Linked DNA regions of Homo sapiens. The protein of the gene in region 3 interacts with the protein of the main gene of each other region in a pairwise test. Each region holds a gene or a part of one and is shown on either strand. Other genes may lie near its edges. The genes, in order: AKAP14, SPA17 and ROPN1L.

Region 1 (10,452 bases), on a different chromosome or scaffold from region 3:
CCTCAGGTAATCCGCCCGCCTCGGCCTCCCAAAGTGCTGGGATTAGAGGCATTAGCGACCATGCACGGCCCATACAAATCCTCTTTCAGGCTTGGCTTCCGGGCACTGACCCTACCACATGAGAGCTCAGGACACACTGGTCCCTGGAGTACTGGGCTAATTCTCCCAGCTCAGCAGAGTGGTGGGCTCTTCCCGGTTCCTCTGCTTTTGGAGTCTGTGCTGGTCATTGAGAGGTGACAGCGTGCTGGCAGTCCTCACAGCCCTCGCTCGCTCTCCGCGCCTCCTCTGCCTGGGCTCCCACTTCGGCGGCACTTGAGGAGGCCTTCAGCCCACCACTGCACTGTGGGAGCCCCTTTCTGGGCTGGCCAAGGCAGGAGCCGGCTCCAGGGAGGTGTGGAGGGAGAGGCGCCAGCGGGAACCGGGGCTGCGCGCAGCGCTTGCGGGCCAGCTGGAGTTCCGGGTGGGCGTGGGCTTGGCGGGCCCCGCACTCGGAGCAGCCGGCCGGCCCTGCCGGCCCCGGGCAATGAGGGGTTTAGCACCCGGGCCAGCGGCTGCGGAGAGTGTACTGGGTCCCCCAGCAATGCCGGCCCACCGGCGCTGCGCTGGATTTCTCACTTGGCCTTAGCTGCCTTCCCGCGGGGCAGGGCTCACGACCTGCAACTCGCCATGCCTGAGCCTCCCACCCTCTCCGTGGGCTCCTGTGCGGCCCGAGCCTCTCCGACGAGCGCCGCCCCCTGCTCCACGGCGCTCAGTCCGATCAACCACCCAAGGGCTGAGGAGTGCGGGCGCACGCGCAGGACTGGCAGGCAGCTCCACCTGCAGCCCTGGTGTGGGATCCACTGGGTGAAGCCAGCTGGGCTCCTGTGTCTGGTGGGGAGGTGGAGAACCTTTATGTCTAGCTCAGGGATTGTAAATACACCAATCGGCGCTCTGTATCTAGCTCAAGGTTTGTAAACACACCAATCAGCACCCTGTGTCTAGCTCAGGGTTTGTGAATGCACCAATCGACACTCTGTATCTAGCTACTCTGGTGGGGACTTGGAGAACCTTTGTGTGGACACTCTGTATCTAGCTAATCTGGTGGGGACTTGGAGAACCTTTATGTCTAGCTCAGGGATTGTAAACGCACCAATCAGCGCCCTATCAAAACAGACCACTCGGCCCTACCAATTAGCAGGATGTGGGTGGGGCCAGATAAGAGAATAAAAGCAGGCTGCGGGAGCTAGCAGCAGCAGCAACCTGCTGAGGTTCTCTTCCACAATGTGGAGGTGTTGTTCTTTTGGTCTTTGCAATAAATCCTGCTACCGGCCACTCTTTGGATCCACACTGCCTTTATGAGCTGTAACACTCACTGTGAAGGTCTGTAGCTTCACTCTTGAAGCTTAGCAGGACCACGAGTCCACCGGGAGGAATGAACAACTCCAGACTAGCCGCCTTAAAAGCTGTAACGCTAACTGCGAAGGTCTGCAGCTTCACTCCTGAGCCAGCGAGACCACGAACCCACCAGATGGAAGAAACTCCGAACACATCCGAACATCGGAAGGAACAAACTCCAGACGTGCCACCTTAAAAGCTGTAACACTCACCAAGAGGGTCCGCGGCTTCATTCTTGAAGTCAGACCAAGAACCCACTAATTCCAGGCCCAGTCAGTCTTACCATCATCATGATACGTTAACTAATGTTTATTGAGCATGTACAATGTATCTGTCCTTGTTTTGAGGTCTCTGTTTGAATCACCTAAATTCATCTTTTTACCAACCCTATAAAAAGCCTATTAAGATCCCCATTGTGCACATGAGACTCAGAGAGGTAAAACTATGGAATGAGACCACTGCTTCTCCTGTTGTCCTTCTTAGCTTCTCCCCCACCTCCCCTTTGCCCTAGTTTATGAGACAGGAGAAAAGGGAGAAAGCAAAAAGTTGGAAAGAAACAGAAGTAAGATAAATAGCTAGACGATCCTGGCGCCAGCACCTGGGTGGTGGTTAAAATAATAACACCAGTAGTTTTGGTCAGGGGTTATCTGTGAATTCCAGACATTGTATGAGAAAGCACTGTAAAACCTTTTGTTCTGTTACCTGATGTATGTAGCCCCCAGTCACGTTCCTCACGCTTACTTGATCTATTATGACTCTTTCACGTAGACTCCTTAGAGTTGTAAGGCCTTAAAAGGGCTAGGAATTTCTTTTTCGGGGAGCTCGGCTCTTAAGACGTGAGTCTGCCGACGCTCCCAGACAAATAAAAAACCTCTTCCTTCTTTAATCCGGTGTCTGAGGAGTTTTGTCTGCGACTCATCCTACTACAAAACAACCTGCCTGAAGTCACAGTTACAACGCCAGTATGTGGCAGAGCTCGGATTTGAAACCCTGTACTGTATCTGCATTCAGAGTCTGTGTTGTTTCTTTTTTTTCCTTTGTGACAGAGTTTCGCTCTTGTTGCCTGGGCTGGAGTACAATAGCACAATCTTGGCTCACTGCAACCTCTGCTTCCCAGGTTCAAGCGATTCTCCTGCCTCAGCCTCCCAAGTAGCTGCGATTACAGGCCAGCACCACCATGCCTGGCTAATTTTTGTATTTTTAGAAGAAATGGGTTTTCACCACGTTGGCCAGGTTGGCCTCGAACTCCTGACCTCAGGTGATCCACCCGCCTCAGCCTCCCAAAGTGCTGGGATTACAGGCGTGAGCCACTGTGCCCGGCCCAGAGTCTGTGTTTCTTCTACTAAACCACACTGTCTCCAAAACTCCTCCCTTCCCACCCTCCATTCCCCTGCCTCACCACTCCACCTCCACAGCATGATCTCTGGGTGTGGGACCTCAAAACATGTGATGTCTTCCAGGCAGTGAGCTCAGCATTTCTTCCTGGATAAAGACACTTAACATTGCAGTTTTCTTCCTTTGTTGGGTTTGAAATCCACTGTCTTTTTTTTTTCTTTGAGCCGGAGTTTCGCTCTTTTCGCCCAGGCTGGAGTGCAGTGGCGAGATCTCGGTTCACTGCAACCTCCACATCTCCGGTTCAGGTGATTCTCCTGCCTCTGCCTCCCAAGTAGCTGGGATTACAGGCGCCTGCCACCATGCCCAGCTACTTTTTAGTAGAGACGGGGTTTCACTGTGTTGGCCAGGCTGGACCTGAACCCCTGACCTCAGGTGATCCACCCACCTCAGCCTCCCAAAGTGCTGGGATTACAGGCGTGAGCTACCATGCCTGGCCAATACCACTACTATAAATAATACTATTAATAGAAATGATATCTACGCTGGGCATGGTGGGTCATGCCTGTAATCCCAGCACTTTGAGAGGTGGAGGTGGGAGCCTAGGAGTTCAAGACCAGCCCAGGCAACAAATAGAGACCTTGTCTCAACAAAACAAACAAACAAACAACAAACTGGGTGTAGTGGCACATGCCCGTGGGCCCAGCTACCCAGGAGGTTGAGTTGGGAGGATCACTTGAGCCTGGGAGGTTGAGGCTGCAGTGAGCCTTGATCACACCATTGCACTCCAGGCTGGGAAACATTTTGAGATCCTGTCTCAAAAAAAAAAAAAAAGAAAGAAAGAAAAAGAAAGGCTGGGCACAGTGGCTCACACCTGTAATCCCAGCAGTTTGGGAGGCCAAGGTGGGCGGATCACCTGAGGTCAGGAGTTTGAGACCAAAAATTATTTGGGCGTGGTGGCAGGTGCCTGTAATCCCAGCTACTCAGGAGGCTGAGGCAGGAGAATCGCTTGAACCTGGGAGGCGGAGGTTGCGGTGAGCCGAGATAGTGCCACTGCACTCCAGCCTGGGCAACAAGAGCAAAACTCTGTCTCAAAAAAAAAAAAAAAAAAAAAAAAAAAAAAAAAAAAGAGAGAGAGAGAGAGAGAGAAAGAAAGGCTATCTAATCATTATAGAGAGAGATTATGATGTACCAGGCATTGTTCTTGGTCTTCACATGAATTGCCTGGTTTGATCCCCATAAAATCCCTATTCTGTAGGCATTGTTATTAACCCCATTTTATAGACAAGGGAACTGAGAAAGAAAAATGTTAAATTGTTCCTGAGTGTAAGCTGATAAGCACTATATCTCTTTCATCTTTGATTCATAAAAGACATCTTTGAAAGCTGTAAAAGGAAAATAAAAACTTGGGACCCCAATTCACTCTGCCAAAAGGAAAAAAAATTAAACTGAAAGCTGAGTCATGCAAGAAGCTGCCTTTCCTTTTGTTCCTAAGCAGACAGCTACAAATAACAGGTTAAATATCTCCACCTGTAGCTACTCTATGTTTACCTTATCTTATGTAAAGTGCTGATTTACTGAGCAGGAGACGGATACATAATTGATTCTTCCTCTACCTGCTCTTTTTCTCTTGCAACATGTGGATTCAATCATGTGACCATACCTTCCCTCTCTTCCCTCAAGCTCGCATTTCCCCTTTATTATTATTATTTATTATTATTATTATTGTTATTATTTGAGACGGAGTCTAGCTCTTGTTGCCCAGGTTGGAGTGCAGTGGTGCAATCTTGGCTCACTGCAACCTCTACTTCCCGGGTTCAAGCGATTCTCCTGCCTCAGCCTCCCAAGTAGCTGGGATTACAGGTGCCCCCCACCATGCCCAGCTAATTTTTGTATTTTTGGTAGAGACAGGGTTTCACCATATTGGCCAGGCTGGTCTCCAACTCCTGATCTCAGGTGATCTGCCTGCCTTGGTCTCCCAAAGTGCTGGGATTACAAGCGTGAGCCACTGCACCTGCCCTTGCATTTCTCCTTTAAATACTGAAGCCTAGGCCGGGCGTGATGGCTCAGGCCTGTAATCCCAGCACCATCAGAGGCCGAGGTGCATGGATCGCCTAAGGTCAAGAGTTCGAGACCAGCCTGACCAACATGGTGAAATCCCGTCTCTATTAAAAATACAAACACTAGCTGGGTGTGGTGGCAGGAGCCTGTAATCCCAGCTACTTGGGAGGCTGAGGCAGCAGAATCGCTTGAACCCGGGAGGCAGAGGTGGCAGTGAGCCAAGATCGTGCCATTGCACTCCAGCCTGGGCAACAAGAGTGAAACTCCATCTCAAACAAACAAACTAAAACCTGAAGCCTGGCCAGGTGGGGTGGCTCATGGCTGTAATCCCAGCACTTTGGGAGGCTGGGGCAGGAGGATAGCTTGAGCTCAGGAGTTCGAGACCAGCCTGGGCAACAGAGCGAGACCTTGTCTCTACAAATAATTTAAAAATTGGCCAGGTGTGGTGGTGGCACACCTATAGTCCCAGCTACCTGGGAGGCTGAGGTGGGAGAATCACTTGAGCCCAGGCAGTGGAGGCTGGGGTGAGCCATGACTGTGCCACTGCATTTCAGCCTGGGTGACAGTGAGACCCTGTCTTTAAATAAATAAATAAATACTGAAGCCCTCAAAGTCATCTTTGGAGAAAGGCACAGACCTGTCTCCCAGACACATCCTTAACCTTGGCAAAATAAACTGGTAAATTGAGACCTGTTTCAGATACTTTTTGGTTTGCAAAGCAATGAAGTACACATGGGAAGTCCTAACCTCAGAATTTGGAAATGAAAAAGTAAAAGCTCAGCCAAAGAAGTCAGCTTTGGGTGTGAGTTTGGGACAGTACTTTCTGTACCTCAGTCTGTTCAACTGCAATATGCAAATACTAATACCTCATAATGCTATTGTGAGGAGTAAATGACTTCAGACACTGAAGGCTTAACACAGTGACTGGCATATCATAGGGATGCCCAATACATACCAGCTGTGAGGCTTATCACCACTGTTCTTCCTGGCATGGCCCTGTAAGCTCATCTTCGGCTGAAGAGAAGCTAGGTATAGCTACTACAGTTTGGTCCTATTATTGCGGTCAGACAGTTGCTGTGATTGGCTCTCCCCTCCTTCCCTCACCCCCTCCCATCTTACCCTCTGTTATTAACATAAGCAGTCAGAAACATGTAGGCTATGCTTCCCATTGGTTGAAATTGTTGTTTCCTTGGCAGCACTTGCAAACATTCCATCTGGCAATCTGAGAGAAGCTACTGAGAGAATCCTGAGACATCCCCAGCCACCTACCACTGCTCCTGTTCCAAGCAAAGAAGATCTGCTCACTCCGGTACTGGGGATTCTCCGGGGTGGGGGAGTCCACAGAAAGGACTTGCAGTGGTTCTCCCTATTCATCACCCAGACCCCAAACGTTACCATTCCCCCCATCTCTTCCTACCCACCCTGCCTATCTGGCCTCTGAGAAGGGGAGGGGAGGAGAGGGGAGGGGAGGGGAGGGGAGGACAAGGGAGAGGGAGGGGGAGGGGAGGGGAGCGGAGGGGAGGGGAGAGGAGGGGAGGGAAGGGAAGAAAAATAACTAGGAGATGCCAGTGGGAGGGAGGCTTAAGAATGGTGTGGGCCCACAGACGTGTGAGGGTAAAAATTGAGCTTCTTCCTGGGCACTGCTCCCCATCTTCCCTCTCCTGTTGGAGCACAGGCTCCCCAGGGAAAGTCTTAAGGAGGTCCTTCCATGCATAAAGCACACACCCCATGTGCTTCGTGTTGGAGGTCACAGATTTGACTTCTCATCGATTTATCAATAGGAAATTTGCTGAAAGCAAAGTTACTGAATGTCCAAGTTACCAAATGGGCAATTTTCTTTTCTTTTCTTTTTTTCTTTTTTTTTTTTTTTGAGACAGAGTCTCGCTCTGTCGCCTAGGCTGGAGTGCAGCAGCGCGATCAAGGCTCACTGCAACCTCCGCCTCTGGTTTCAAGTGATTCTCCTGCCTCAGCCTCCCGAGTAGCTGGGACGACAGGCATGCACCACCATGCCTGGCTAATTTTTGTATTTTTAGTAGAGACGGGATTTTGCCATGTTGGCCAGGCTGGTTTCGAACTCCTGACCTCAGGTAATCCTCCCACATTGGCCTTCCAAAGTGCTGGGATTACAGGTGTGAGCCACCGCGCCCGGCCCCAAATGGACAATTTTCTTTCTTTCTTTTCTTCTTTCCTTCTTTCTCTCTTTCTTTCTTTTCTTTTTTGAGGTGGAGTTGCACTCTGTTGCCCAGGCTGGAGTGAAGTGGTGAGATCTTGGCTCACTGCAAACTCTGCCTCCCGGATTCATGCCATTCTCCTGCCTCAGACCCCCAAGTAGCTGGGACTACAGGCACCCGCCACCACGGCTGGCTAATTTTTTGTATTTTTAGTAGAGACGGGGTTTCACTGTGTTAGCCAGGATGGTCTCGATCTCCTGACCTCGTGATCCGCCCGCCTTGGCCTCCCAAAGTGCTGGGATTATAGGTGTGAGCCACTGCGCCCGGCCCAAATGGACAATTTTCTAAAGGATCAAGTTGATATATGGCTACCTCACCAAAGTCTACTGAAATTACCAATTTACCCAAAAACCTTTGTACAGTTGTCTTTAACTACAGAGTTTATAGCAGGTTGCTCTGGCCAAATTGGCATGGCCTAAGTAAGGGCTAGGGAGAGCCAGTTCTCTAGTGTTAAGGACCTTTAGGCTCCTCACTGACCACCCTTTAGCCTCTGGCTGCTCTGGAGTGGGCAACCTGGAAATGCTCTGTGTGCTCTGGCAGATGATCCTGTCTACCTCCAGCTGCAGCAACAAGGAACTGGGGCAGAGGCAAACTGAGCTTAAAAATGCCAACATCAGTCTGGGCAACATACTGAGACCTATAAAATAAATAGCCTGGTGTAGGCAGGACACGGTGGCTCATGCCTGTAATCCCAGCATTTTGGGAGGCCGAGGTGGGCAGATCACCCGAGGTCAGGGGTTGAAGACCAGCCTGGCCAACATGGTAAAACCCTGTCTCTATTAAAAATACAAAAATTAGCTGGGCATATTTTTGTATTTACAATACTTTTGTATTTTGTATTTACACACCTGTAATCCCAGCTACTCAGGAGGCTGAGGCAGGAGAATTGCTTGAACCCAGGAGGCGGACGTTGCAGTGAGCCGAGATTGCGCCACCGCACTCCAGCCTGGGTGACAGAGTGAGACTCTGTATCAAAAGAAAAAAATAATAGCCAGCTGTGGTGGTATAGGCCTTTAGGCCCAACTACTCAGGAGGCTGAGGTGGGAGGATCACTTGAGCCCAGGAAGTTGAGGCTGCAGCTAGCTGTGATTGCGCCACTGTACTCCAGCCCAGGTAACAGAGCAAGACTCTATCTCAAGAGGAAAAAAAGGAAAACAAAAAGCTAAAATGAACAATAGCCAACATTATTTCAGGGATGTTCAAAGGCTGTCCCAGTGGTTCTTGAACTGATGGCCGTTGGAGCCAGGTTGCCTTTTGCAGTATCTACTACCCCCTGGGATCAATGATGATGTCAAGAAAGGAAACAGAGAGTTGCCCTTTGTCCGGGCGTGGTGGCTCACACCTGTAATCCCAGCACTTTGGAGATTACACCAAGGCAGGTGTATCACCTGAGGTCAGGAGTTCAAGACCAGCCTGGCCAACATGGTGAAACCCCATCTCTACTAAAAATAACAAAAACTAGCCGGGCATGGTGGCGGACACCTGTAATCCCAGCTACTTGGGAGGCTGAGGCAGGAGAATCACTTGAACCCAGGAGGCAGAGGTTGCAGTGAGCCGAGATTTCGCCATTGCACTCCGGCCTGGGCAATAAGAGTGAAAACTCCGTCTTGAAAAAAAAAAAAAAGAGTTGCCTTTTGTGAAAGAGGCTCCCAGAGAGAGAGTGGGTCACTGGACTCTAGATGAAAATGTGAGAATAAGGCCAGGCGCGATGGCTCACACCTGTAATCCCAGCACTTTGGGAGACTGAGGTGGGTGGATCAGGAGGTCAGGAGTTCAAGACCAGCCTGGCCAAGATGGTGAAACCCCGTCTCTACTAAAAATACAAAAATTAGCTGGGCGTGGTGGCAGGTGCCTGTAATCCCAGCTACTCGGGAGGCTGAGGCAGCAGAATTGCTTGAACCCAGGAGGCGGAGGTTGCAGTGAGCGGAGATCGTGCCACTGCCCTCCAGCCTGGGTGACAGAACAAGACTCTGTCTCAAAAAAAAAAAAAAAAAAAGGAAGAAAGAAAATGTGAGAATAGGGCCCTACTGCTCTTTCTCAATCTTGGAGGGAGAAGAGCAGCACAGTTGAGAGCATGGGCTGTGAAGCCAGACACTGTGGGTGTACAGCTCAGTTTCCTCATTTTCACATGGCAGCAACAGGCCCTCTGTCTGTGACTCAGGGCTCCTGTAGGAAACTGTTGGCATATTAAAATGAGGATAGCTGTAGAAGGGTTAAGTAAGGGAATATTTACAAAGGTGTGGCCAGATTGCAGGGCAACAGAGGAAGGTGCAGCTCCCCGGGGCTAGTAACAGTGGGCCTAAAACGTTGAGGGGAGAGAATGCTTACCCTTACCACACTGGGAAGCTGGGAGAGCGCCACCCTGAAAGACGCTGGGGACTTCATGCAGCCAGCCATCAGCCAACTCGCAGGGAGAAAACCACCAGGGACATACATTTTGACTTCCTGATCTCCTTATTGTGTGGAACCCCCTAGAAGCCAGAGGGCACCATTTATGGGTGCAGTCAGGTTAGTTTTCCAGGGCAGGAAGCAGGAGGAGATGCAAGGACAGTGGATTTGGAAAGGCAAATGGAAGGTGCCCAGCGCACTCTTTCATAGGGCTGTGATGACAGTTAAATGAAACATAGCACATTAAACACCCCCAAATTGGGAGCTGTTATTTATAGAAAAATAGCTCCATTTGGAGAGAGATACCCACTTTCATGTAGCCCTTCCACTCAATGGAAGGATTGCTTGCAACATACTTATTTTTTATTTTTTGAGACAGCCTTGCTCTGTCACCAGGCTGGAGTGCAGCGACACAATCTCGGCTCACTGCAACCTCTGCCTCCCGGGTTCAAGCAATTCTCCTGCCTCAGCCTCACGAGTAGCTGGGATTACAGGTGCTGGCCACCATGCCAGTCCAACTTTTTTTTTTTTTGAGATGGAGTCTCACTCTCATTGCCCAGGCTGGAGTGCAATGGCGTGATCTGGGCTCACCACAACCTCCGCCTCCCAGATTCAAGCGATTCTCCTGCCTCAGCCTCCCGAGTAGCTGGGATTACAGGCACGTGCCACCACACCTGGCTAATTTTTGTATTTTTAGTAGAGACGGGGTTTTGCCTTGTTGGCCAGGCTGGTCTTGAACTCCTGACCTCAGGTGATCCACCCGCCTCGGCCTCCCAAAGAGCTGGGATTACAGGCATGAGCCACCAAACCTGGCCCAGGCCAATTTTTGTATTTTTAGTAGAGATGGGGTTTCTCCATGTTGGCCAGGCTAGTCTCAAACTCCTCACCTCAGGTGATCTAACCCCTTGGCCTCCCAAATTGCTGGGATTACAGGCGTGTGCCACCGTGCCTGGCCATGTTTTTTATTTTCTCTGAGACAGGGTCTCGCTCTGTCACCCAGACTGGAGTACAGTGGTGAGATCACGGCTCCCTGCAGCCTCGACCTCCCAGGCTCAAGTGATCCTCC
Region 2 (10,049 bases), on a different chromosome or scaffold from region 3:
AAAATGAAATTGGACCCCTATCTCCCATCATACACAAAAATCAACCCATCATGGATTAAAGACTTAAACATAAGACCTAAAACTGTAAAAATACTAGAAGAAAACCTAGGAGAAACTTTACTGGATATTGGTCTAGGCAAAGAATGTATGACTAAGATCACAAAAGCACAGGCAACAAAAACAAAAATAGACAAATGGGACTTAATTAAGCTAAAAAGCTTTGCACAGTAAAAGAAATAATCAACAGAGTGAAGAGATAAGCTGTTGAATGGGAGAAATTACTTGCAAACTATTCATCCAACAAGGGACTAATATCCAAAATACACAAGGGAGTCCAACAATTCAACAACAACAAAAAATAAGTAATCTGATTAAAAAGTGGGCAAAGGGCTGGGCGTGGTGGTTCATGCCTGTAATCCCAGCACTTTGGGAGGCAAGGCAGGAAGATTGCTTGAGCCCAGGAGCTTGACATTAGCATGCGCAACATGGTGAAACCCATCTCTTCAAAAAATTAGCCAGACGTGGTGGTGTGCACCTGTAGTCCCCAGCTACTTGGGAGGCTAAGGTGAGAGGATCACTTGAGCCCACAGGTCAAGGCTGTAGTGCACTCCAGCCTGGGCAACAGAGTGAGACCCTGTCTCAAAAAAAAAAAGAAAAAGAAAAAGAAAAAAGAACTTGGAAAAGGACATGAATAGAGATTTTTTAGAAGAAGACATACAGATGTCCAACAGGTATATTAAAAAATGCTCAATATCACTAATCATCAGAGAAGTACAAATCAAAACTACAGTAAGATATTATTTTACCCCACTCAGAATGGCTACTATGAAAAAGACAAAATAATAACAGATACTGGCAAGGATTCAGAGAAAGGAGAACTCTTATACACTGTTGTCAGGAATGTAAATTAGTATAGCCTCTAAGGAAAGCAGTATGGAGATTTCGCAAATAACTAAAAATAGAATGACCATTCAGTCCAGCAATCTCTCTACTAGGTATCTACCCAAGGGAAAATAAATCAATACATCAAAAGATACATTCATTTTTATGTTGTTTGCAGCACCATTCACAATAGCAAAGATATTGAATCAACCTAAGTATCTGTCCAATGGATGAATGAATAAGGAAAATGTGGGATGTATACACAATGGAATACAATTCAGCCATAATACAGAATGAAGTCGTGTCTTTTCCAGCAACATGGATGAAACAGGAGGCCATTATCTTAAGTGAAACAAGCCAGGCACAGAAAGACATGTAGTGCTTGTTTTCATTCATAAGTGGGTGCTGAAAAAATGTGTTTAAATGGACATAGACGTGGAATGATAGATAATGGAGACTCAGAAGAGTGAGGAGAGGTGGGAGAAAGGAGAATAATGAGAAATTGGTTAAAGGCTAAAATGTGCAGTATTTGGGTGATGGACACCCTAAAAGCCCTGACTTGATCACCAATCCACACATGTAACAAAATTGTACATGTACTCCATAAATTTGTACAAATATAAAAGAAAAAGAAGAAATTCAAAGTATTGGGCCCCATTCCAGGTCTACAAATCAGAAGTTACATTTTTAAGAGATCACCAGAATAATTCGTAGGTACATTAAAATTTGAGAACACTGCTCTAGACAACTGAGGTAGTACTATTAGCCACAAAGCACAGCAGATATTAGAATTGAAAAGAATTAACAAAGTTCAAGTTCTCCAGTAGATTTGGGGAATTTCTTGAAGAAGGAGCTGTCACTTATTACACAAGTTTGAAAGTGAAGTTCCATCCATTTGTGCCTGCAGGTATGGGTGTGTTCTGTGTATTTCCATTTTACTAGATTCTCTGTGCTCATGTTTTATTTGTATTCATGTTTATCGAAGTCAAAGGAATAATGTTGAAAGATTTTAAATCCTTGCATCACATAGCAATTTTGGGGTGTTTCTTTTTTTAATTCTAAAGGCTTTATTTGATTAACTTATATATTCTTAAATTTTGGTTTTATGGGTTAAAGAAGCTCTTTCCATAGGTGTGAATTAGCAATGAAGGAAGACTTAAATAGCCATGTCAAAATAGGCAGAGGTGGTTTCTCCTTTTATATTTAAATCATAAAGCAAAACTCCACAGCAAAACTTACTTCTCTGACTAGTTTTAATCCATAAACGTCACTAAAAAGTCAATTTGATGTCACATTATGGAACACAATGCCATTTATTTTATTCCTATTTTAGAAACTATTGGATCCTCTTTTTTATACTTTGTTCAGGATTCATTACATCATCTTATCAACTTTTAGTATAGGACAGTGGTTTATTTTTAACATAAAACAGTGGTACACACATTCCAAAAGCAACAGATCAAACATTTTTGCCAATTATTTGGTCTTTAATATTTGTTTACACGTATTTCCTTAAGAGCTTTTATTATTTCTTCTTGTTTCAATGTATTTTCCTTATTAAAAGATAAATACGTAGTATTTAATTCCCCCTATTTCTCAGTAATTTAAAGTAATGTTTCATTACTTCTAAGCAGTTTGATACAAGACTTTGCCATTTTGGAAACATTGCTAATTGTGGCTCTCTCCTATCTGTCCAGGAGCAAGAACCACCTGAGAAAAGTGATCCTAAACAAGAAGAGTCTCAGATATCTGGGAAGGAGGAAGAGACATCAGTCACCATCTTAGTATGTAATATTTTTCATGTACTATTGGATTCCTACAAAGAATGATATTGCCCAATTTAAAACTGAACTCCAAATATGAATGTCTGTTATCTTTATTGTCAAAATTATGACTTTACTTTCCAGATAATTAACATCAGTGATAAACTAACTGGTAGATAATTTTCAGCCATGCCTCTCTTGATCAAAAATTCATTTTTCCTTTAAAAATGAAATCTTATTTTTCAAGATTGTTAATGGATGGAAAAATCTCCCTATGGGGAAGGGCAGACAGAACTCACAGACCCAGTCATGATCCTTCAGATTCATCTTCCACTTTGGGAATTTTTCACTAATTGGTGCTGTCACCACTACACAATGGCAAATTTCAGAGATAACAAAAGGAAAATCACAGGGAATTACATACAGCCAAAATAATGGCTTTACAACAATGTGGCTTATTCATCTTCCATGCATAACGCTCTACAAAAATGCCTTCGTGCCTGATGTACTACATCCAAGCAGTCAAGACATAGCGGAGGCCGGGCGTGGTGGCTCACGTCTGTAATCCCAGCACTTTGGGAGGCCAAGGCAGGCAGATCACGAGGTCAGGAGATTGAGACCATCCTGGCTAACACGGTGAAACCCCATCTCTACTAAAAATACAAAAAATTAGCCGGGCATGGTGGCGGGCGCCTGTAGTTCCAGCTACTCGGGAGGCTGAGGCAAGAGAATGGTGTGAACCCGGGAGGCGGAGGTTGCAGTGAGCCAAGATCACGCCACTGCACTCCAGCCTGGGCGACAGTACAAGACTCCTTCTCAAAAAAAGAAAAAAAAAGACATAGCGAAGTCCACCCTCAAAGGCCCATTGTTCAGTAATGTCACTTTAATAACTTGAAGTCAGCCACAATGAGAATATTAAGACCATGGCAAACACTGCAAATCAGGGCTTTGTTTCTTCTGGAGAGCCAGTTGTTAAAACACTTACCAGTACATCATTGTCTATATTCTTCATACTCCAGACTCTTGTGGACTAGGCCTCATAAGAAAGAAGAACTCACTCTCTAAAATGTCGAAGTTCAAACTTCTGAGTTCCTTTTTATGTCTCAGGTCCCAGGTAGTTGCCCAAGAACTGGCAGCCAGAATGGATATCCCCTCAAGGAATACCCTACTTCCTACCTAGTGATGCATTGCTTTTCCCTATAAGATTTACAGGTTGTTCCACAATTGCCATTGGGTTGTACTGAAATAACATTACATTAGGATATAACAGGAAGATTAACATTAAGATGTAACAGGAAGTCAAGGAAGAAGGGAGTTTTATTTCCTTACATCTTTCATAGGTGCTTTTACACAGGTTTTCATGAGTTTGAGTAGGGATCTCATTGATTTCCAACTTGAGTGTATTTGTTTGCTATATTAGGATGTCATCTCGAAGAATTTTATACCATTCTGTTTGCATTTAAAAGTTTAAGAGCTAGATTTGTCTCATTATTTATAATAGGGGGATAGGAGGCTTGAGCAACCCAAAGGTCCATTAATATGAGATTGAGTAAATATTAAATCAAGGTACATCAGTATAATATAATGATGTCATAAAAAAAGAATGGGGAGAGTTATACACTGACTAATAATACAGAAAAAGAGAACCAAGATATATCGTTACATGGAAAAAGTAGCTGCAGAACTCTGTGATTAGGATGATCTCATTTTTAAAATAAAAAGACATATATATATATATATACCCATATGAATATATTTGCATATAGAGAAATTTTGGAAGGATGTAGATACTCAACTCATAATAATGGGTATCTCCCAAGAGCAGGATTTGGATAGGTGGAGAAAACTATCACTGCCAGTGACATTTGAGTTTTTAAAGTGTATACATGTCATTTCTATAATTTTAAAAGATATATTAAAAGCTGTATATTCAATTGTACGCTGAAGATTCATGCATTTTACTGTCTGTAAATTTATAGCTAAAAATTTATACCCAATTTTTTTAAAAGAGGGTATGTGCCAAAGTTCAACCAACCCTGTTAAAACTGACATTATTGGACTAAATGGATTTCTCTTTGGCACCTCACTTTAAATGTATGACGATGATTAACTAATCATTGAGAAATTGAGAAGTTATTCTAATTCATTATATGTAATTGTGATTATTTTGAAACATAACATTTACAGTTCTTTCTTCTTAACATTTTTACCATGCCTCAAGGATTCTTTCTTGTCCCCCCAACCCCCCAAAAAATGTTGTTGCTCAGGAAACTTAAATAGGCACTATTTTAGGGGAAAGAAAGTTGGCAATGATCTTTTGTTGCAGAGACATATTAAAAGAGTGACAAAACAAAATGCCTGCTATTTTGGCATTTGCCATTTGGTACATATACAATGTGACAATATATGAAATTCCCTCAGGAAGCAACAGCTCTCAGATAGTTGCATCCCTAAAATGATTAAATTTCATCCATTTATTTTTGTGGCATCAAAACTACGCCATATTTAAAGAGTCTCTTACTTTTTCTCCTTTCGATGAAGGACTCTTCTGAGGAAGATAAGGAAAAAGAAGAGGTTGCTGCTGTCAAAATCCAAGCTGCCTTCCGGGGACACATAGCCAGAGAGGAGGCAAAGAAAATGAAAACAAATAGTCTTCAAAATGAGGAAAAAGAGGAAAACAAGTGAGGACACTGGTTTTACCTCCAGGAAACATGAAAAATAATCCAAATCCATCAACCTTCTTATTAATGTCATTTCTTCCTGAGGAAGGAAGATTTGATGTTGTGAAATAACATTCGTTACTGTTGTGAAAATCTGTCATGAGCATTTGTTTAATAAGCATACCATTGAAACATGCCACTTGAAGATTTCTCTGAGATCATGAGTTTGTTTACACTTGTCTCAAGCCTATCTATAGAGACCCTTGGATTTAGAATTATAGAACTAAAGTATCTGAGATTACAGAGATCTCAGAGGTTATGTGTTCTAACTATTATCAAATGAATAAATCCTCTCTATCACATCCCCCAAAAATGTTCTTTAGCTCCTGTTTCACTCCTAGTGGTAAAGAATTTCACTGCTTTTTAAGGATAGTCTATTTAATTTTGGAATTTTTAGAAAGATAAGCTGGGACAAAAATCTGCCTCCTTCAGCCTGGCCAACATGGTGAAACCCCATGTCTACTAAAAGTACAAAAATTGGCCAGGCGTGGTGCGCACACCTGTAATCCCAGCTACTCGGGAGGCTGAGGCAGGAGAATCGCTTGAACCTGGGAAGTGGAGGCTGCAGTAAGCCGAGATCGCACCACTGCACTCCAGCCTGGGCGACAGAGCAAGACTCTGTCTCAAAAACAAAACAAAACAAAAAAAAGCCTCTGCCTCCTTGTAAGTTTAACCCACTGGTTTTCATTTATCATACATGTATTCAATCATTTATTGAAAATGTATTGAGTACTATTCATGTGCTGGGAATTAGTAGTGAATACTTGTTCTTACACTCATACAACTTACAATGCTTTATTGTTTTGCTCTCCAGAACCACACAGAACAAGACTAATAACATCATATTGTAAAAAGCAAAAGCTATCATATCATGCTGCCTTCTTCAGTTAAAACTTCCCAAGTTTTTAAATATACAATGGTAATGCCTGTTTAACAAACTCAGAGGCTTTATCTCTTTTATGTTTTCAATGATTCATTCAAATCCCTAGTGCCTTAGTTTTAGAAAGTTCCGTCTCTCCTTTTTGAGGCCTCTCCACCCTTGATTGTCCAAGAAACTGAGGGTTCATGTCTTAGACCAAAGGGTGCAGTTCTCTTCCCAATACAAAAGGTAGAAAGTGGAGTCTTACCATTTAGTTAATGCTGTTGCCTTCTACCATAATGTTGTAGCATAGTCCAGCAGACTGAGGTGATTCTCTGGCTGGTTCCAATTCCTGCCTGCACCATAGTGGATGGCCCATGATTTAGTTCCAGGATTACATCTCTCTTGGTTTATAGTCACAAAGCCAGTGTTCCCCCAAAGCTTAAAAACAAGCCAGGATGGCTCAGTCCTGAGGAGATTCTAAAACCAGGTCTATGTTGTCACAACAAATACTCTCCTACAAACACTTTGATCCTTGTCCTAGGCTTAGACATGCTCTTTCTGCAAAGCAGTTTTATTTCAGGTGCCTCACTGCCCTTCCCTGGCACTGAGCCTTTATCAGGCTCTGCAACAGAGGTTCCCCCAAGTGATCGCCACTCAAACACAGTTGATTCACACCAACCCTTTCAAGGTTGTGGCTTTCATTCTCTAATGTCCACTCATACAGGCAGCCTTTCTCCTTCCAAAATCTTGCTGCCACTGTAGAGAGTTTCATGCTAGCTAAACACAAGTCTCTAATATCCCCCTTCCTCTCCTCCTTAACCCCTCTCCTCCAGGCTTACAGAGGAAAAGAAATCAGTTCTCCTCCAGGATTCCAGCTGTTCGTCCCTCCCATTCCACTGAAAGCACCAGCTTCTAACACCTTCCCCTCTCAGACAGAGCCATCCTGCTTAGCGGATTGTCAAGGGGGGACCCAGAATTTATGCAAAGACTTAGATTCCCTGACCTGGAGAGATCAGAAGAGGAAAAAAGGGATTTTTTCCCTAGTGAGTATATAGCAGGAAAAAAAAAAAAGATGAGTTAGCTTTTTCAGTAATTCTCCTGTTATACACATAAAGTGACTAGCACTATGCATTCCATACACACACACACACACACACAGATCTCATGGTAGTGATATTGGTAGTGAAGGAGGAAAAGGAAAAGGTGAGCAATGGATGTGATATTATGAGAACAACACATATGAATGACACTTTATTAGAACTTATCTGGTTTTCCTCTTATCTCTCTGGCTGTTCCTTCTCAATTCCCTTCACTGGTAACTCTTCAACTCCCCAACCACTAAATGCTAAGTGCCCTTAGGCTCAGTCTTTCGACCCCATTTCTACACTCACTTGATTTCCTGCAGTTTCATAGCTTTAAAATCCAATCTTCTTAATGATCACTCCCAGACCTTTCTCTCCTCTGCCTGCGAACTTCTATATTCAACTGCCTACATAACATCCCCATTTGGATGTCTATAGGCATCTCAAAAGTAACATATAAAAAATGAATCCTGATATTGCCCCCAAATCTGAAACTTCCCCCACACCCAAGTTTTTCCATTCAAAAATGGCTGCTCCATTCTTCCATTTGCTCAGGCCAAAAACCTTGGATTCATCTTTAATGCGTCACTTTCTTTCACACCCCATATACAATCTATCAGCAAAACCTGTGGGCTGTACCTATAAAATAATACTCAGAATCTGCCTACTTCTAACCACTTCCATTGTTACCGCCTTGGTCCTAGTTCCCATGATAGCCTTGTGAATTATTGCAATAACCTATATTGGCCAGTGATTATCTCACTACTACTGCACAACCCATTCCAAAGTTAGTGGTTTAAGACAATTATATTTTCTCCTGGGTCTGTAGGTCAGTGGTAATGTAGCTAAGCTAGGCTGGACTACAATCTCAAGGTTAGGTTCAGGTCAGCTCTAAGCTGTGGGTTTGTGGGCTGACAGGAAGGTCTGCTTCAGGCTGTGGGCCCAAGGGTCAGCTGCAGCACAGTGCCTCTGCTTCACGTGTCCTTTTCTGAGCCCCTGCTGAAAGACGTTATCCAGGACAAGCTCTTCTCATGCTGGTCACAGAAGACAAGCAGGAAAACCCAGCATGCAAGAATATTTCAAGCTTTTGCTCATATCACTTCCACTGACATCCCATATACAAAAGAAAGTCATCTAATGAAGCCCAAAGTGAGGAGGATGAGGAAATACACTGTTCACCAATAGCAAAGGCTTCATGTGTGCATAATACTACTACAGGGTAGTGAAGAATTGCGACCAGTAATTTAATCTACCACGATCTGCTTTCTTGATTATAATTATGTCTTTACCACATGCAAAAATTGACCCACTCCTATCCCAAAACCCCTAAAAGTTCCATCACATCTTTGAAATCCAGGATCTCATGATCTACATCAGGTCCAGATATAGCCCTTCTTGATATAGAGACCTATGAATTAAAAGAGCAAGCATCTTTTTATCACATACCAAACATACAACAAATGATGGAATAGAGACAATAATAACCACAAAAAAATACTCTTATTCACAAAGGGGAGAAATGGAAGCAGATCACAGCCACTGGTCCATAACAATTAGGAAAACTCATTGGACAATGGTTGTCAGGTTCCTCCATTGGAGGGAATTGTGTTTCATGATTAGGCACTGTTTCTGCTCCTTAAAAATGACTTTCCAGTCTATCCTCCACAGCTCTTTGTTCTACACTCTAGGGAATCATTCTTTTTCCCTCATCTTCCTTAGTCACTTGCAAAGGACATTAGAGAATATGCCCTTTTTGGTGGATAAATGGGTTCTTCAACCTGCTTTCTGCCTGTAGAAAATTAGAGGCCAATAATCTGTTTATATCTTGTAGAATGTCTATTTTAGCTGGTACCGGTACTTTTGTCAATAAAGTTCTTTTTTAAACTTTGTGGACTTCCTATGAATTTGACTATAGTCAACTCCACGTGCCAAAAGGTGTGGTGCACTCGCAATTTCTTTCAAGATTTGCCTCCCTTTATCTCTCTGTTTCCAATTCTGTTAAGAGTGAAAAATTGGAACCAATATTTCAATATATAGATATCATAACTGCCGAGCATTCACTATCCCTTCTTCTCCCAGCTTCCACCTTGTGTTACTCAGGGTCTCCAGAGAAACAGAGCCAATAGAATATATATAGATATATGACTAGGAATTTATTATGGGAATTGGCTCATGCACTTATGGAGGTTGAGAGAGCCCACAATATGCTGTGTGCAAGCAGAGAACCAGAGAAGCCAGTGGTGTGATTCAGTCTGAGTCTGAAGGCCTGAGAACCATGGAAGCCAATGGTGTAGCTCTCAGTCCAAGGCAAAAGCCCTGAGAACCAGGGGGGCTGCTGGTGTGAGTCCTGAAGTCCCAAGGCCCAAGAACCAGCACCTCTGGTGTCCAAGGACAGAGAAAAATGGATGTCCCAGCTCCAAAAGAGAATTTGCCCTTCCTCTGCCTTTTAGTTGGTACTGGTACTTTTGCCAATAAAGTTCTCTTTTAAACTTTATGGACTTCCTATGAATTTGACTATAGTCAACTCCATGTACCAAAAGGTGTGGTGCACCCTTCCCAAGATAATTTGCCCTTCCTCTGCCTTTTTGTTCTACCCAAGTCCTCAATGTCAATCTGCCCACACTGGTGAGGGCAGACCTTCTTTACTTAGTCTACCAATTCAAATACTAATCTCTTCCAGAAACATTTTATCAGCTATCTGAGCATCCCTTAACCAGTCACGTTGTCACAAAAAAATGAA
Region 3 (10,049 bases):
CAGCTTAGACGGCCAAGCTCTATCCTTAACACAATGTCTCCATCTAGTGTCACACACTCTACATGGACAAGAGGCCTTATTTTTCAAATCAGATTCAATTGTGTTTTAAATCTAGTGCTTAATTTTCACAATTAGGAAGGTGAAAACTATAAAGATGGATCCAAAAACATGAATTATTCTACTTTCTCATCATTTTAAAATCAAAATTTTACAACTAAGCTTAGAGGCAGAAACCACCAACATTAATTCAAACATTGCATACAATTTTATATTGTTAACATATCGATTTCAGGGCCGGGTGCAGTGGCTCACACCTGTAATCCCAGCATTTTGGGAGGCCGAGGCGGGCAGATCACCTGAGGTCAGGAGTACAAGATCAGCCAGGCCAACATGGTGAAACGCTGTCTCTACTAAAAATACAAAAAATTAGCCAGGCGTGGAGGTCCATGCCTGTAATCCCAGCTACTTGGGAGGCTGAGGCATGGAAATCACTTGAACCTGGGAGGCGGAGGTGGCAGTGAGCCCAGATCGCACCACTGCACTACAGCCTGGGTGACAGAGCAAGACTCTGTCTCAAAAAAAAAAAAATACACACACACACACACACACACACAGACACACACACACACACACACACACACATATACTTTAGGCTGGGTGCAGTGGCTTACACCTGTAATCTATAATCCCAGAACCTGAGGCTGGTAGATCACCTGAGGTCAGGAGTTCAAGACCAGCCAGGCCAACATGGTGAAACCCCATCTCTACTAAAAGTACAAGAATTAGCTGAGCATGGTGGTGCATGCCTGTAATCCCAGCTACTCGGGAGGCTGAGGCAGGAGAATCACTTGAACCTGGGAGGTTGCAGTGAGTCAAGATCACACCATTGCACTCCAACCTGGGTGACACAGTGAGACTCCATCTCAAAAAACATATAGCTAGATACAGATATAGATAGATAGATTAGATAGATAGACAGATAGATAGATAGATAGATAGATTTCACAGAGTTCCAGATTAACAAAGTGACATAAAAATGTCTCCAATAATTAAAAGTATTTGCCTTTGTCTATCTTGATAATACCCCTGAGACACTCCCCTGGTGCCATCTGCACCTGTCCTTGCTACTGGAGGGTACCATGCCTGCCAACATCCAGGCCTTGGCACAATTAGCCCGGGGCTGACAGGAAGCACCTCCATTGCCTTTGAGCAGTTACACAACAAAACTCTTGCTCATTCTACAGCCACACCACACCCGACTCCCTGAGGGCACGGAGCTTCCCACTGGGGCCATCTGCAGAGCTGGTGAACTGCGCCACACTCAGATGTGACATGGCGAAGGAAGGGAATGAACAACGTGGCCTGTGATGTACAGATGAATACATCTAGTCATATAATTTAGGATGAAAATTTCAGAAAATTACTGACAACACAAATGTCTTTTCATCAAGTCAAAACCAACTAAAATTCCACAGTGTACCTCTTGCGGGACACATAGAAGCATGTGTTTCAGAGGTCAGGAAGCGAGAAGCAGGAACTTCAGAAATGTCATTGCTTCAGGCCACCAGGCAGGGGGACAGGACATGGGAGGAGGCCACAGGTGGTTGGAAGTGACTGTTGGTGCATTAGTGGCCACATTGGGTAGCCTTGCGGGTGTTTACCACCACCCATTTCAAGTAATTTGTTTTAATGAAAATGGAATGAAAGAGCTCTGTGCATGGAGCAAAGCTGAGTGAGGGCTGTGAAGCAAGGACCAGTTATACACACTGGGGCCACAGACTGAAGGGAGGGGGGAAAATCAAATTGTTCATCTATGTAGTAAAGGGAGCTGGTTCTCCTTTCTCTGCCTCCTTTCTTCATAAGCTTCACATGGCAGATGCCTGGTTACTCTTCCTTCACCCAACCACCATGTCTCACAGCAAGACTTTAGCTGAGAAGACTGACTCTGGGTTTGCAAAGGAAGCCCTGCCAACATCATCCCAGCTCCAACCTCTCCCTTCTCGCCCCGACCTCCCAGGCTCGCCTCGTCACCTGGAGGATCATGTCTTATTCCTAAGTTGCTTGGCTTATACTCAAACATCAGCAAAATCTCACTGTATCTATTAGTTATTAATAATAGATTTCTAAGGCCGGCGCGGTGGCTCACGCCTGTAATCCCAACACTTTGGGAGGCCAAGGTGGGCAGATCACCTGAGGTCAGGAGTTCGAGACCAGCCTGACCAACATGGAGAAACCCCGTCTCTACTAAAAATACAAAATTAGCCAGGCATGGTGGCACATGCCTGTAATCCCAGCTATCAGCAACTCGGGAGGCTGAGACAGGGAATCGCTTGAACCTGGGAGGCGGAGGTTGCGGTGAGCCGAGATTGCGCCATTGTACTCCAGCCTGGGCAACAACAGCAAAACTCCATCTCAAAAAAAATGAATAAATAAATAATAATAATAGATTTCTACTAAAGTAGAAAATAATTGTATGCCTCTTTCCACAGATGAGCAAAACAGTTATCAGTTTACAAAATGATTTGTAGTTTTAAAAAGTCATTGATGCATTTTCTTCTAAAACCTAAATATATTTTAATAGTATCCATATCTTTCATCTACTATTAACTTTTAAATTGAGGCATTCATAAATAATTTCTGTAAATTAAAATAACTGTACACCTGAAAATATTAATATAATAGGCCTGGAGCAGGGGGAAATGCTTTTCTAAGACAAAGTTACTAAAGTGTTTCCTTTAGTTACTGAAACCTAAATTATTTTTAAGCTGGGACCATGATGACACAGAATTATTAATATGCTGTTTATAGGTACATACCCCACCAAGCATGCTGCATCCAAGCGCTAAAAAGTTTATCCACTTGATTTTGTTTTCACAAGGATCCAGTTGTAAGAGCGCTTTGAATTTTTCCTTCGGCAGGCACAAGTTCTTCCACTTCTGCTCAAGATCTGTTAATTCCACATACCGCTTGTGGTGACACTGTTTGGAAAACACAGCATGACAATTTATGTATGTTTTAAAACCTGGGAAACAATGAATGCTGTGAATATTCAACACACACCAAGTAACCCGCCCCATGCAGGGGACAGATGAACTCCAAATGCATGACAGGGGGTTCTGTCAGCCCTGGGGAGGGAAGGCAGGGAAGGCAGCGAGCGGCAACCTTTTATTTATTAAATGAAAAAAGGACGGTGAAGCGAATACGGCATCATGTTATGACTTAATGAAACAGGCATACTGATATTGAGTATACGATACTCCACTATCTGTCTGAAATGCTTCACAATAAAAAATAAAGCTCAGTAAAAAACATTTTAAAAATCCAGCCCCTAATCACATTAACAGTTAGATAGGAGAGATCTTAAAACTGAAAATAAATGTATTTCTTCTATTATATATTTATTTGTTAATTTTTGGACAGTCTCATTCTGTTGCCCAGGCTGGAGTGCAGCGGCATGATTTCGGCTCACTGCAACCTCCACCTCCCAGGGTTAAGTAATTCTTCCGCCTCAGCCTCCCAAGTAGCTGGGATTACAGGTGCGCACCACCACGCCCTGTTAAGTTTTGTATTTTTATTGGAGACAAAGTTTCACCTTGTTGGCCAGGCTGGTCTTGAACTCCTGACCTCAAGTGATCTGCCCGCCTCAGCCTCCCAAAGTACTGGGATTAAAGGCATGAGCCACCATGCCCGGCCTTCCTTCTACTATTTTAAACAATCTATCAAAACTGAAAACTTCTGCAATCTGCTAGCAGTATCCTGGATGAAAAGGCTTTGAGCAATTTCAGCATGTCTTTTCGCAAGCTACACCATTCAAGAGTTCTTTGCTTCCCTTAAGGTAGTCCTAGTTTCAGAATTCACTGTATCCTGCGCAGAAGCACAGTACTTCACAGTGTAGAATGGGGATAAGTCAGTTTGAAAATCAAGGTTATGCCACTGGTGTCTCTTTTAGCAAAAGAACCGAGTCATGAGGAAGGCCTAGCCTTGCTCCGTGACCCACTTTCTAGTAACTCACGTCTGTAAAAACAGGATGGCGTGTGGGGCAAAGAAGCGCAAGGCAGGAAGGGGGCCCAGGCTCTCCACAGCACTGGACACCAGAGGCTGCTGCCCACCTTGGGGGCCAAAGGCCAGCCCCGCCTTCCAGACAGAGAAGGCAGAGGCTTACTCAGGCCTGCGCACAGCTTTCACAAACACACACCTGGAGAACGGACTGGAAACCCCCCAGGTTCTGAAATTTTGTATGTTTTGCCCAGCAGAATCTAGTGTCATGTAAATTTTGTATTTAAAAGAAATTATATTTCACTTTTCTAAACTCTACCCCTGGATAGTGACTTGGGGCTGTTGAAGCTAGAAAAAGACCTCCCAGACACAACATATTTCTTCCTTGAATCAACCTTGACGATGCGTGGCAGGGAAAGCAGGATTTCAGGGACCTCAGGAGGTTTGAAATACATTGCTGGGGTGTGCCCCGCTCTGTCATCAATGCACAGTGAACGGTAAGGAAAGCACAGGCCAGCTGCCTGAGGCCAGAGACTACGCCCCCCCATACCTGCTTGTGCAAAACTTTCAGGAGTCCTTGAGTCAGGCCTGTGTCTGTTTTCTGGGTTGCCGTGGGCATTTCCATTCTGTCCTTTACAGGAAGTGGATCTCCTCTCGACAGAGCTGAAAAATAGCTAATAAATAACAGACATCTCTGAAAGCTCATCAATACACAAAAAACAGCTATGCGATCCAATTTCTTAAATAACCCCCCAAAACAACGGTGATTAGGAAGGACAGCTCTGAAGACCAACATCCCGGGCTTATGTCCTGGTTCCTCCACTTGGTTCTCTGACTTAACCTTCTCTGCCTGCCTTAGTTTCTCTGTTGGCAAAGGGGATAATGAGACTCCCTGTTGGAGGGTTGGGGAGCATTGTGTGAGAAGGGCTTGGCGCAGTGGCTGGCACTCGCAGAAGCTCCTTCAACATGTGTGATTCTTCCCCTCCTCCCTGCCACTTCACAATCAGCTGGAGTTCCATGTATTATTCTTTCTTTTTTTTTCCTAAATTTTTTGAGACAGGGTCTCACTCTGTCACCCAGGCTGGAGTGCAGTGGCATAATCATGGCTCACTGTAGCCTCAACCTCCCAAGCTCAAGGGATCCTCCCGCCTCAGCCTCCTGAGTAGCTGGGACTACAGGCACACACCACCACACCTGGCTAATCTTTTTAATTATTTCTTACAGAGATGTGGTCTTGTTCCATTGCCCATGCTGGTCTGGAACTCCTGGCCTCAAGTGATCCTCCCAGCTTGGCCTCCCAAAGTGCTGGGATTATAGGCGTGAGCCACTGTGCCTGGCCGTCTTCCCACTTTTGACAGGTGGGTTTGGTCTTGCTGCTTTTTGAGGTGCTTGACTTTAAGCGTCTCTGCATATTCAACCCTGAGGCAGCCCAGGAACACACAGGTCACCTACTTCCACACTGGGAATGGCAGGTGCTGGCCTGGCTCCCATCCCCCCACCCCCACTTTTCCTGCCTGGTATTGTTCCCCTTAATTGTTCCTTTCTGGGACACTGATATTGCTGCTTATGTTGGGGGCAAGAGTGGGAAACTGTTGGGGCAATAAGTCAAGAGGGAACCCACACCCAGCCTCTGGCTCGTGGTGGGAGGGGTGCCAGGCAAGACCTTCTGAGAAACTCACGCCCCTTGGTATCTTTGCCAGAGGTGGCGATGCTGAAGCCACATCATTTGGGGCCCTAATGACTTTAGCATGATGAAAAGAGACAGCATATCCAGGCAAATGAACATCAAAGCATCCACCAGGGCCACAGATAACAATTTTAAAGCCATGGGTAGTTAGAAACATTGCTACAGATAAATATGGATAAGTCGATATCTGATAGACTAAAATAAACTTCATATCTCATCCTTTCTCTCTCTTTACACCCCTCAAATTTGACTTTGTTTCCTTGCTTTGTAAGACAACTTCAGCTCCATTTTGTGGCTTTGTTAATGATTTGAAGGCAGCAGTGAGTTAGACAAATGTGAACCTAAAGACCTAAAGGGTGTGGGTGAAGAATAGGTGCCTCGTTTTGCCACATTCCTACTAATCAAGGTTTTCACCTATTTCATGGGGGTAACTCCTCATAACTCAGGCAAGGAATCCCGAGCTAGATACAGCCTCTGGAGGCAGAGTTCTCAGTGGGGGATAATGCTCCTCCTCTTTCCCCCACCCGCCACCCTCCTCCCCAGCCAAAAGGCATTTGGCAATTTCTGGAGACGCTTTTTTTTTTTTGAGATAGAGTCTCGTTCTGTGGCCTAGGCTGGAGTGCAGTAGCGCCATCTCAGCTCATTGCAACCTCCACCTCCCAGGTTCAAGCTATTCTCCGGCCTCAGCCTCCTGAGTAGCTGGGATTACACATGTGCATCACCAAGCCCAGCTGATTTTTTATATTTTATTAGAGACGGGGTTTCACCATGTTGCCCCCAGGGTGGTCTCAAACTCCTGAGCTCAGACAATCAACCCGCCTCAGCCTCCCAAAATGCTAGGATTACAGGCGTGAGCCACCGCACCCGGCCTGGAGACATTTTTGATTGTCACAACAGAGGGTGGATGGTACTCCAGGCATCCAGTGGGTGCAGGCCAGGAGGCTGCTAAGTCCCATCATGCACAAGATGCCCCTTCCTCCTGTGCCCTCCCCAACTGTCAGTAGGGCCGAGGCTGGAAATGCCTGCTTTTGAGGTGAGACCAACTAATGTTAGCCTCTGCCAGTTCCTTGAGGCACACGCCAACCAAAGCAGCCTCTATTACTTGACTGATTCTTATGTTCATTGTCCTGTGTGAGGCACAACTGCACAATGGTGTCATAAGGAACAGCCGACTCCCCTCACAGTGGAGTCCACAGGCTTAGGGGGAGGCTGGCTCATCTTTGATATTTGCCCACCTGAAAAGCACCTTTGAAAAGAACCCTAACCTGAGGAAAGAGGAATGCCTACTTGCTTCATCTTTTTTGTTTGTTTGTTTTTTCTTTTTTAGACAGGCTCTTGCTCTGTCACCCAGGCTGGAGTAGAGTGTTGTGAACATGGCTCACTGAAGCCTCCAACTCCTGGGCTCAAGTGATCCTTCTGCCTCAGCATCCTGAATAGCTGGGATTACAGACATGCATCACCATGGCCGGCTAATTTTATTTTTAGTACAGACAAGGTCTTGCCACGTTGTGCAGGCTGGTCTCGAGCTCCTGAGCTCAAGTAACCTGTCCGCCTCGTCCTCCCAAAATGTAGGGATTACAGGTGTGAGCCACCGTGCTCAGCCTACTTGCTTGTTCTATAGCAGTTATGTCCGTGGGTATCCTGGTTTCCTGTTTTGGTTTTGATGGTTTTTCTTTTTCCTGTCTCCACCCCCTTCTTCCTGTGCTGCTTCCTCTTCCTGGAATCCTCTCCACCCCACCCAAGCCCCAATCTCTCTGCCTACAAAATCTCTCAAGGACCAAGCCACTACTTTGCTTAACTTTCGTGACCCTTCATTTTTGCACTTACCAAGTCCCGCCTTACTCAAGTTACTTTTGAATAGCTCTCCCTAACAGATTCTGTCCTGTGACAGCTGAAACATATTTGAACCTACAATTACATATATACTGCCGAATGAATAATACCTGGGTTTTCTCCTAAACTCACAAATTGTTCTTGGTCAGGCGCGGTGGCTCAAGCCTATAATCCCACCACTTTGGGAGGCCAGGAGGGCAGATTACTTGAGGTCAGGAGTTCCAGACCAGCGTGGCCAACATGGTGAAACCCCCGTCTCTACTAAAAATACAAAAATTAGCTGGGCGTGGTGGCACGCACCTGTAATCCCAGCTACTTGGGAAGCTAAGGCAGAATTGCTTGAACCAGGAGGCAGAGGTTGCCGTGAGCCTAGATAGCACCAGTGCACTCCAGCCTGGGCCACAGAAAAAGACTCTATCTAAAAAATAAATAAATAAATGGCTCTTGAGAGAAATTAGTAGCATGGTACATTCGGAAAGTTCCTGATTAAGTCTCTTATTTATTTATTTATTTTTATGATGGAGTCTTGCTCTATCATCCAGGCTGGAGTGCAGTGGCACGATCTTGGCTCACTGCAACCTCTGCTTCCCGGTTTCAAACAATTCTCCTGCCTCAGCCTCCCATGTAACTGGGACTACAGATGCGTGCCACCACACCAAGCTAATTTTTGTATTTTTAGTAGAGATGGGGTTTCACCATGTTGGTCAGGTTGGTCTCGAACTCCTGACCTCAGGTGATTCATCAGCCTTGGCCTCCCAAACTCTGGGATTACAGGTGTGAGCCACCATGCCCAGCCTGATTAAGCCTCTTAAAGTGAAGTTTAGGCCAGGTGCGGTGGCTTACACTGGTAATCCCAGCACTTTGGGAGGCCCAAGTGGATAGATCACCTGAGGTCAGGAGTTCGAGACTAGCCTGGCCAACATGGTGAAACCCCATCTCTACTAAAAATACAAAAATTAGCCGGGTGTGGTGGCAAGTGCCTGTAATCCCAGTTACTTGGGAGGCTGAGGCAGGAGAATCGCTTGAACCCGGGAGGCAGAGGTTGCCGTGAGCCGAGATCTCGCCATTGCACTCCAGCCTGGGCAACAAGAGTGAAACTCCGTCTCAAAAATAAATAAATAAATAAACAAAGTGAAGCTTAACATAACTATCTCTAAGGTATTACTAAATATAGTTTAATGTTCCAAGAAGATGTTGCTAAATCTTGGAATTTTTTGTACAGCACAAACTCTTATAAATCCTTTTATTTAAGCTTGAATAATGGTTAAAACCAGAGGCTATATTTCTTTAGCAAGAACTTTGAAAGAGTCTTTCAGAAACCATTGATAAAAGCATTTCTCAGAAGGCAAGCACTGGATGGACAAGTAGCTCAGTTGGTGGGTAAAATAACAGCCCCAAAGGTATCCAGGTCCATGTTCCAGGAACCTGGGAATGTTACTTTACATGGTAACAGGGATTTTGTGGACTGATAAGGATCTCGGGTGGGAAAACTGCCCTGGACTATCTGGATGGCCACTGAATGCAATCACCAGTGTCCTTGGAAGAAGGAGGCAGAGGGAGATTTGAAGATGCTGGCCTTGAAAATGGAGGAAGGGGACATGAGCCAAGGCGTCCAAGAAATGCAGCTCTAGAAGCCAGAAAAGGCAAGGAAACGAGCTGGGTTTTCCTGAGAACCACTGGAAAGAGCAAAGCCCTGTCAACACCTTGATTTTAGCCTAGTGAAACTAATTTGGACTTCTGGCCTCCAGAACTGCAAGAATGTATGTCTGTGTTTTTTTTTTTTTTGAGACGGAGTCTCGCTCTGTCGCCCGGGCCGGACTGCGGACTGCAGTGGCGCAATCTCGGCTCACTGCAAGCTCCGCTTCCCGGGTTCACGCCATTCTCCTGCCTCAGCCTCCCGAGTAGCTGGGACTACAGGCGCCCGCCACCGCGCCCGGCTAATTTTTTGTATTTTTAGTAGAGACGGGGTTTCACCTTGTTAGCCAGGATGGTCTCGATCTCCTGACCTCATGATCCACCCGCCTCGGCCTCCCAAAGTGCTGGGATTACAGGCGTGAGCCACCGCGCCCGGCCCAAATGTATGTCTGTGTTTTAAGCTGTCAAGTTTTGTGGTGATTTGTTACAGCAGCCAAACGAAACTAATTCACTTTGGTTATAGAGTTTAAAGCCAGCAAAATTTGGCTGTTTTTTTTCTTTTTAAATTAGTTTTCTTATTAAAAAAAATACAGATGGGGTCTTGCTGTGTTACCCAGGCTGGTCTCAAACTCTTGGGCTCAAGTGATCCTCCCAGCTTGGCCTCCCAAAGTGCTGGGATTACAGGCATGAACCACCAAGCCCAGCCAAAATTTGAAATGTTGATGACTAAAATATTTAAATTAAATTTACACCTGTGCTGACTCTTGTCATCATAAAAGTGAGTTTTTGTTTTACATCTGTTTATTGAAAAGGGGCAAAGAGCTCTCCTGTAAAACCAAGAGGATTTCTTTTAATGCCTCTAAGATCTGTTGACTTGTAACTTTGAGATTATGAATGT

Evidence for each region.
Region 1: the proteins of ROPN1L (region 3) and AKAP14 interact in binary tests that used the Homo sapiens proteins (3 or more experiments, as listed by UniProt).
Region 2: the proteins of ROPN1L (region 3) and SPA17 interact in binary tests that used the Homo sapiens proteins (3 or more experiments, as listed by UniProt).

Annotation. Positions count from the first base shown.
Region 1 is NC_000023.11:119,890,192-119,900,643, forward strand, and holds the start of AKAP14 (A-kinase anchor protein 14), read left to right. Parts: upstream 1-5,701; 5' UTR 5,702-5,796; intron 5,797-5,963; 5' UTR 5,964-6,076; intron 6,077-10,452. UniProt on the Homo sapiens protein: Binds to type II regulatory subunits of protein kinase A and anchors/targets them.
Region 2 is NC_000011.10:124,689,117-124,699,165, forward strand, and holds the end of SPA17 (sperm surface protein Sp17), read left to right. Parts: intron 1-2,579; coding exon 2,580-2,666; intron 2,667-5,186; coding exon 5,187-5,330; 3' UTR 5,331-8,402; downstream 8,403-10,049. UniProt on the Homo sapiens protein: Sperm surface zona pellucida binding protein. Helps to bind spermatozoa to the zona pellucida with high affinity. Might function in binding zona pellucida and carbohydrates.
Region 3 is NC_000005.10:10,442,881-10,452,929, reverse strand, and holds part of ROPN1L (ropporin-1-like protein), read right to left. Parts: intron 4,671-10,049; coding exon 4,547-4,670; intron 2,979-4,546; coding exon 2,817-2,978; intron 1-2,816. UniProt on the Homo sapiens protein: Functions as part of axonemal radial spoke complexes that play an important part in the motility of sperm and cilia. Important for male fertility.